Linked DNA regions of Homo sapiens: region 2 is linked to region 1. Evidence: fine-mapped expression QTL. Tissue or cell type: putamen. Region 1 holds a variant in brackets; the other region holds the start of a gene. All regions are shown on one strand. Distances are from middle to middle.

Region 1 (4,398 bases):
GCACCTGTAGTCCCAGCTACTCAGGAGGCTGAGGCAGGAGAACGGTGCGAACCCAGGAAGCGGAGCATGCAGTGAGCCGAGATCTCGCCACTGCACTCCAGCCTGGGCAACAGAGCAAGATTCCATCTCAAAATAATAATAATAATAATAATAATAATAATAAAATAAAAATAAAAAAATACCAACTCATCTACCCCTTCATTAGTGTAAAGAAAGCTAACATGAAACTGTCTGCAGAGGGGAGAAACCAATACAAAGCAAGCCAATTTACACCACTGAATCCTAGAAAGGTTCAGAGAGGGAGGCAGTGAGATCCTCTGTAAGTCAGACTGAGAGGCGGGCCAAAAATCCATAGGACTTGCTCATGATGTGCATGAAGTGTGGAGAGACCCCCACACCCGTTTGTCCAACCCCTGCAGCTGGTGAGAGAGACCAGAGAGGGGTGAACTCGAGGACACTCAGTAGACACTCAAGCATACACAAGGGTGCATGCTGAAGGAAGGGTGGGGCAATTTATCAGAAATAGGGGGATAGAATGAATGACTGCAAGCTGAATGGGAGAGTCCTAGCACCATCCCCCAAATGCTGGCAGCCAGGGACACACCCTAAAGGCAGGGGACTTTCCAAAGAACCTGATAGAGGGACAGATGCTGACACCTGAGGATCTCCTAAATAAAGGCTGGGTGCCCCCTCACTCCAGGCCCACCCACAGAACCTCCCCGCAACCTTTTAGTAATTCACCTGACAGCAAGGATAGAAGAGATTAGAAGAGAGCCTCTAACATGATAGAGACCAAAAGCAAATGGGGTGCAGGGGGCGGGGCAGGAAGGAAGCACTTGAAAGAAACAGATAATTCAAAGAGAGAATTTTTGAAAACTATAATGAATTAAAATATTACAGTAATTATCCAGGAGATCCAATACCTGACTAACAGAAGTTCCAACATGAGAAGACAGAAACTGGCAAGGAGTAAATTATCAACTAACTAATATAAGAAAAATTTTTCAGAAATTAAGACAGACTTTCCTAGATTAAAGGAGCCCAACAATCACCAGCTCTCCCCACATCTCCACAAAAAAGAAGGGGTGGAGGGTGCTCACACCAAAGTGATTGAGTGAGTTCTTCATGGAATTTTAATATCCTAGAGATTAAAAAGAAAAAAGACCTAAATGTTGAGTGCAGAAGAGAGAGGAAGAGTGAGAAAGGGGTGCGGGGAGTCACATGTAAAGGATATGGAATCAGAATGCCATTGAATTCCTCCATAACTCGAAGCTAAAAGACAGTAGAGTCATTAATGCATTCCAGATCCTAAGTGGGGGATGATTTCCTACTTAGAATTCTATACCCAGCCAAACTACAAATCAAATCATCAAACATACAAGGTATGGAAAAATTCGTCTCCCATGCTGCCTTTTTGCAACTTTCATATTTGCTGAAAAATGTGTTTTCTCAACATTGGAGAGAAAAATGAGAAAGATGAAGACATGAGATCCAGAAAGCAGATCATATACAGGAGTGTGGTAAAGAGAATTCCTTGGGTCAGAGTGAAGGGAAATCTCAGAATGACAGAGTGTGGTAGATCACTAGACCCATCGGGCCAGAATGCAGAAGGACGGAGAACTCCAGCAGGGAAGCCTCCAAGTCAAAGAGAATGGAATAATAGTTTGTTTGACTCATTTGACAATACAGAAAGGAGCTCTATGCTTCTGTTGGAAAATTTGAGACTTCATTTTTAGACACATAGAAAATTAAACAAACAAAGTGATTATAGATTCCAAAGCAAACTCAAGTCATGTAAAGAAGGAAACTCACTACACTTTGAAAATATTAATAAAAATATTATTTATAGTCATTATAATATAAACACTGAATATTTAATTTAAAATAGAAAGGATGAAGGGAGTGGAAGTGTAAGAGAATGGGAATGGATGAAGTATAAGACCTAAACCACACTCTTCATCCAGTAGATAATGTCTATCTTAGAAATGAAACAATAGTACTATAAGCACATTATTTATAAATCTGGAGATAAATCACTGAGAAATAACTAAAGTAGTTGCTTTAGGGATGGAATGAGACTGAGAAGAGGATTTCTGTTTTTCCTCATAAGACTTCTAGTTCTATGTGACTTTTTATATTATATACATGTATTTCCTTAATGTAGGTCCTAATAAGTGTTTTGCATTTAGTAGGGGCTCAGTGAACACTAGCTACTATTATCAAATTATAGATTTGATAGTGGATGAATAGAAACATTGTGGCTTGCCTAAAGCTTCCTTCCCCTGAAACTGTCAGAAGCAGAACTAGGGCTTCTTTA[T/A]TCAAAGCATTTTAAAAGGGCATCTTTGTCAGACCCAAGCATGAGGCAGTCCCGGTCCATAAGTGTCATTCTATTCAGGGACTGGGAGGAAAAGCACGAGTGTACATAACTATTTCACAAAGGATACCCTGGCAAGCACCAAGTAACGAGAGTTATCTAGCCAGTCTCTAACCATTATGTCCCTCTCATGTCCCATTCTCAATGCCAGAGCGGATCATAAATATTAAGGACTACCTGCCGCAGATGCTAACTTTTAACATGTGAGCGTTTAGGCTCTCGGGAGGTAATATACGCAATTCATCACGGTTCACTTTCCTTTCTTATTTTCAATCTCTAGAGAAAAGCCTGTATTCATATTAGAAAATTTACAATAGCAATCAACAGGCCCATCCGAGTAGCTTTGGTCACTGACTGCCTAGCTATATTTACTTCCACCAGGTTTTTTATAAAGTTTGGCTGTCTTGAAGCATTACCAGCACGCCATCCTTCTGGTGTCTTCCTGGCTAAATGATGGTCAAACTGCTCCAAACAATCAGAGTTTGGTAAGAAGAGCCAGGGAGCCCATCTTCCCGCTTTTACTACCACGGGTGTCCTTAGCTGCGGCTGCCAAGCTGAGCAAGTTCATGGAACTGCGGTACTGAGGGCTGTAAAACGGTCTTTCCTGAAAATAAAGTAACAAAAAATCAAGCTCAGCTGGATTCTGATTTAATAGTATCTGGCAAGCTAACTATATTATTTTTGAACACACAGACATAAATTTGATATGAATAATAAAACTGAAGTATAATATGGACAAAGGAAATATAAAATTCGCCTAATCTTCAAAAGAAATTCTATACTTGAATAATTATGCTCTATTTATAAAACTAGAATAATTGAAAACAGGATTTTCAGTTGATTCATATAGCCTCTGAAATATTTATTATTGCAAGTCGAAAAGATCTGTCTGGGATTTGTCACTGAAAATGTCTAAACTCAGTGTCCAGATGTTTATTTAAGTTGCTCCCACAGAGTTCTAATGTCAATACTAGGGGTTATCAGAGAGCATCGCTGTGTATCTTCCTTGACTAATATTCTCATTTCTTTTGCATCTTTGATGTTTTCTTTCATTAAAATTCCTGGCCCATATCCACAAAAATCTGCTAGGCTTGCATAAAAAATGAGTCTGCAGACTTGACATTTGATGATGCCCTGTGTGTTCACAAAGATAATATTTATCAGCAGCTATCACTTAGACATTACAACCAGCAGCATTGAGTCAATTTAAGAGAATAAAAAAGAATACAGAATCCAGATTTTAGAGTGTCTTACTTGCAGATTCCAACTTCCTGCCTATTCTTTTCTCCTAATGTTATGTAAGGCAAAGTTAGAATCAGCAATGGGATTTTTCACCATGGCCCATGTGCATTCTCTCCCCTCCCTCTCTGTCATGTACCCTGTCTTCTTTTGCAAACCTAAAGTAAAATGACTTTAAAGTAAAGGAAACCAGGCCCTCTGTCAAAACTCACTTCCTAAAGTTTCTGCAGAGTAAGACACCTGGGAGAACATTCTAAAGATAGATTATATGATGTCCTTTTCCTTCGTGTGAAAGTGGCAAAAGACAACACGATTGTATTTTTTAGCGAACCAGATGGGGATTTTTTTCATCAGCTGCACAAAAGAAAGCATGTACTAAAAGTTTCTCCTTTCCAAAACCAAATGAATTTTATCCAAATTGTTAAAGTACCTAGAACCCAAAAAAAGGGGGGACATGAATAAATGAAATTTGCATAAACATTCAAAAGAGCCCAGTGCATCTGAAGGTTGGTCCAAGCTACGATCAGATGGGGAGTTAAGACCAGCAAGGGGTCAACACTATTTATCCTCTGCTGTTCACCATGTTAATTAAAAAGAATTAAATCTGTTTTGAACTCCAATATAAAGTGAAGAAAAAGTTTGCTACAAATGTGAAAAACCACTAATGATACAACACAGTATCTTCTGGAAACTGTGAACAGATTAATTAGAAGATGTAACCTACAGGAAAATCTCCTGTTTACTTGATTAAATCATAAAATTCACAGACTCATGTAATACAGCCA
Region 2 (4,398 bases), 29 kb after region 1:
ACTTCCATGTAATGAGGTTTCTTCTCAGTCCCACTGGAAAGGCCTGTCAAGTTCTTAGTACTTGCGTTTTCTTCTGACTGTTGTTCACCTTGGTCCGCAATGGTGATCCTCTGTAACCTGTCAATAAACAGGTTGTCAAAGCTGCTGGAAGTATCTTCCGCTTGACTTGAAACACGATGCCGCGGGTGATGCTCACTAGCTTCAGATGAAGGTGGTACCCTGTCTCTATTGCTGGAAGCTGGGCCCTTATTCACTGTGTACTCAACCTCTGAAGTCTCTTCATCACCTTCAAGAGTAGGACGTCCAAGTCCCTGGTTTTGTGAGGTTTGAGATGACTTGATGTTATCTACAGAGGAACATCCAGGAACTAGTGATGAAGTATCAAGTATCGGGTCAGAATTCTGGGCCTTATCTGTACCCACATCAACTTCTGCAATTGCTTTTTGCCTTAGCTTACAGTCTAAACTAACAGGGTTAAACAGTTCACTTTTTCTTCTAACTTCTTCACATTCTGCAATGGCAGCTTTCAGTTTGGCAAAAGAGTCAAAGATCTTTTTACCTTTGTCGGGCAATTTGCAAATGAATTTTCTGTCAAATGGAAAAGAATACTATTACATTACAGCCATTTTTTTAACTTGAGATATAACATTAAAAAGGCAAGGCATTATCTTCAAAGAAAGAAAAGCTGATTTTTAAGTCAAATATCTGATTTCTAACTGCCCCAAAACAAGAATAAAACAATTAAAATGGTCATTATCCAAATAGCCCAAAAAACAAGGGAATGCAGGAAGAATAGGGAATATATGCCTCATTTGTCTCAGCAAATTAGAATTTCAGCAAAAGTATTTTAAGCATATAATAATCACATAAGACATTCCAAGAACCAGCAGTCATTAAAGTGCAATCTCCAAAATTTGGGGATGGGGTGGAGTGTGGGGATGGGCCTATTAGGTCAAAACTACTTTCATAATAATACTAAGATATTATTTCCCTCTCATTTTCTCGCATGGGTACAGTGGAGTTTTCCAGAGGCTACATGGCATGTGATGACATCATTGTTCTAGAATAGAATGTGTGCTTGTGTATGCTTATGTTTTAAAGACTTCAGACGTATTTCTGATAAGTAAATACATTTCGCTAGATACAACACATAAAATAGCTCTTTGGGATGTCAATAATTCTTAAAGTATAACGGAGTCCTGAGACCAAAAAGTTAATTCACTGCTATACATTCAAAACCTATTCTCACAAGGTCAAAACACATGTCTTGATCCCAACCAATTATTTATTTGTCCCTTTTGCTGGATGACAGAGTTCCTTTTCTGATTCCCTTTTCTTTAACTATACAATAAATGGAAAGAAAAAATTACACCTTAAGTCCTCTGTTCTTTTTGACACTACATTCATCCCCACAATTTCAACTATTAACAACACTCTACAGCTGAAATTCCTGTTTTCTGTATTTTTCCAGGGTTCTCTCTTTCTTGAGCCTCATGACTACTTCTCCAGCTTTTAAGTGTTTGGTTTTCGATTAACCAAATGTCTGTCCTGCTCTCCTCTCAACTCTGCACACCCTAAGTAAAATCAACCTTGGATCTATTCCTCTCCCTGAATTTTCCTATTTTTGCTAGTGGTCTTCCATATAGATTGGAAACTTCAGCCATCTCTGTCAACTGCATTTAAATTAGTCCATGCTTAAAAGTTCTCCCAATCCCTTCCTAGCTCACTTTCTTACAAGTGTCTCGTGGGAAGTCTCTCTGAAAATATCCTTCTACTGTCTTCTGCTTTTTATTCCTTCAAACCATCTTTTGCAACAAGCTGCTGAACAAAGCTGCCTAAAAAACAAAATCACTTTTATTACGTGGCTCCCTTGCTAAAATCCGTTCAACCAGCCAGCTGAATGAGGGTCGAACTTTCCCGGCCTAATAAACCCCTCTTCATATCCCACTCTTCCCATTTCCTACGGTTCCTGTAAGCTTAGAATCCAGAGATGAAGCTGACAATCTGTTATGGGTTAGGGGTGCGGGCGACAAAAGGGTTTAGAAAGCAGACTCATGGAACCACCACAGTCCCCGGGTAAATAAAACCGACCAGGGGCTACTAACTCCCTGCAACGCCAGGTAGCCGTTCAATCCGAGCTATCCTCGCAGGCATACGTGCCTGGCCAGGAAGAGGCACGGCTCTGCCGCAGCAAGCCCTCCGTCCACTCGCCCGTAGGACTGAAGCGAATGTGACTGAGTCAAAGTCACCTTCCAGGGAAGGGAACAGAGTGCGGGAGGGGAGGGGAGCGCCCAGGGAGCTCGAGCTGAAGGAGCCTGGCGGAGACTCCGCGGGACCCCAGCTTACTCGTTGCGCAAAAGTCTCTCCTGGCGCTTCAACATTTCCCGCAGCTCCACCAAACTCCGCTGCGCCAAGTCCTCGGGAGCTTGGGGCTCGAAGCCGCGGGGCAGCGAGCACATTCTGCGCGGGCTGAGGCTGGCGCGGCGGCGGGCACTCGGCTTCCTCGGCAGGCCCCGCTACTAGCGCCGGATCCGCGGACGGCGGTGACTCCGGGGCACGAGCGGGAGTCGCCATTTTCCCGGAAGAACGGGGTCTTCTTCGAGCCGAATCGAGCTTTATTGAAATTCCGGAAACAAACACGGACTGGGAGAAGGGGGCGTCCGCAGGAGCGTTAAAGGGCGGAAGTTACGTCGGATGACGCCGGCTCCTTGGCTTGGCGCCCTTTCCCCTTGTGTGAGCATTCATGCGGTCATCAGCTGTTCGTCGGTTTATACAAAAAGTATTCAGCGCCAGCGTGACCTCACCAAGCACTATGTGTCAGTCAACAAATAGCAACGTCCTGTGTTATACTTGGGGTTTACAGAGTTGGCGGGGGGATGGGGGGAGGGAGAATCAAATTATGATATAATAGTAACGTTGGGATGGGCACCTGGGAAGATATCTCTGAGAAGTGGTTCAAGTCGAAACTTGAAAGATGAGCTGGCCATTAATAAGGTGGGAGAGAGTGCGGGACAGGATTTGGGAGACTCTGGCCTGTGCGTGGTGCCTCCGGCCTGTGCGTGGTGCCTCCTAGCTCAGCTTAGGGACGTCCTGAAATTGTTAAAGTTGGAAGGTTCCTCAGAATCAGCGATTTTTCTTGGGGCTCAATGCATTTGGAGAAGGACTTCATTTGTAGCACCGCCTCAAGCATTGTTAAGACATTTGGTGTTTCTGGCTTCTGCCTGCTAGGTGCTATGGCACTCCCAAGTCATTGCAACAATCCAAAATGTCTCCTCCAACATACATTTCCAAAGGCCCACAAGAGGTGATGAGGGAGTGGGAGCAGCTGTACAAACTCGTTGAGGACCTTTTCGAATTTTCTACTTTGCCTATAGAAAAACAGAGGCATGAAAACTGAAATAAATATTCCCAGGGCACAAAACCAGTAAGTGACAGCACCAGATTTCAAACTCAAAAGCCCAGCCCCTTTTCCAACACACCAATTTGAAAATCCCCTTCTTCACTTTAGGCCTATTTCCAAATGTGTAAAACTGTTGAAAAGACTTCCCTCCGCCCCCCCCCACCCCCGCCACCTCCCCAGCTGTTGAGAAGAAGGCAGCTTAATAGGTATTGGACACAGCTTTTACCTTCTCGTTATAGTTCAGCTACCAGAGGTGCATCCCAGTGGAAAGAGTAGGAAGACATGCAGTCACAGCAGATGTCACTTGGGAGGTTTGAACACCCCCATAACCCACCGCCCTCCCCCGATTTTTTGATATAGGAAATTGAAGTTGTCTCAATCCTGTGTAAGATGCTATATAAACACAAGCAGCTCTGTCCTAAAGAGACAGAAGATCTAGGTAAACTCCAAAGCTATTCCAGGGAGCACAATTGCAACCATTTATCTATCCCCCCAATCTGGTCCATTCTGATCAGATTCATTAATATATCAAAATAAGTTTTCTCTGTATAAGACTTGCTTTCAAGGACGTTAATAACGTGCTGCAGCATTGGCTGAATGAGAAATAGGTAAGGTCCTCGAGTCAGGTGGTTGTCTGTGGTACTGACAAAAAAAAAAAAAAAAGACTCCGTAAAATGTTGAAGAGATGTATTCTGTGCCAAATATGAGTGACCATGGCCCGTGACACAGCCCTCAGGAGATCCTGAGAACACGTGCCTAAGGTGGTTGGTGCACAGCTTGGTTTTATACATTTTAGGGAGACATGAGACATCAATCAAATACATTTAAGATAAACATTGGCTTAATCCACAAAGGTGGGACAACTCAAAGCAGAGCGGGTGTGGGGCAAGATGGGCTCCCAAGTTATAGGTAAATTTAAGTTTTTTTCTGATTGGTAATTGATTTAAAGGAATGTCTAGGTTAGCATAAGAACTTGTGGAGACCGAAATTTTATCATG

Which allele goes with the higher level. Alleles are on the strand shown, and positions count from the first base shown. SD is a standard deviation of normalised expression in the study named.
With allele T in place of A in region 1, the expression in putamen of the gene that starts at base 2,588 in region 2 is higher (small effect, 0.19 SD a copy in GTEx).

The links. PIP is the estimated chance that this variant, and not a neighbour inherited with it, causes the effect.
Region 2: POLR2M starts here. The variant in region 1 is fine-mapped to the expression of POLR2M in putamen (GTEx, PIP 0.99).

The regions. Positions count from the first base shown.
Region 1 is chr15:57,734,047-57,738,444 of GRCh38, reverse strand. It overlaps LOC105370834 (a long non-coding RNA gene), which reads right to left. Exons shown (of 6, transcript XR_001751554.3): 2 at 2,791-2,978. Among named protein-coding and RNA genes, the nearest start is that of POLR2M, 30 kb to the right of the region's middle. The variant T/A (reference allele first, on the strand shown) is at 2,318.
Region 2 is chr15:57,704,904-57,709,301 of GRCh38, reverse strand. POLR2M (RNA polymerase II subunit M) reads right to left here and starts at 2,588. Exons shown (of 4, transcript NM_015532.5): 1 at 2,347-2,588; 2 at 1-588. The coding sequence starts at 2,459. GCOM1 (GCOM1, MYZAP-POLR2M combined locus) reads right to left here. Exons shown (of 17, transcript NR_104371.3): 14 at 2,930-3,368; 15 at 1-588. RefSeq lists a silencer at 2,104-2,153 and an enhancer at 2,474-2,693.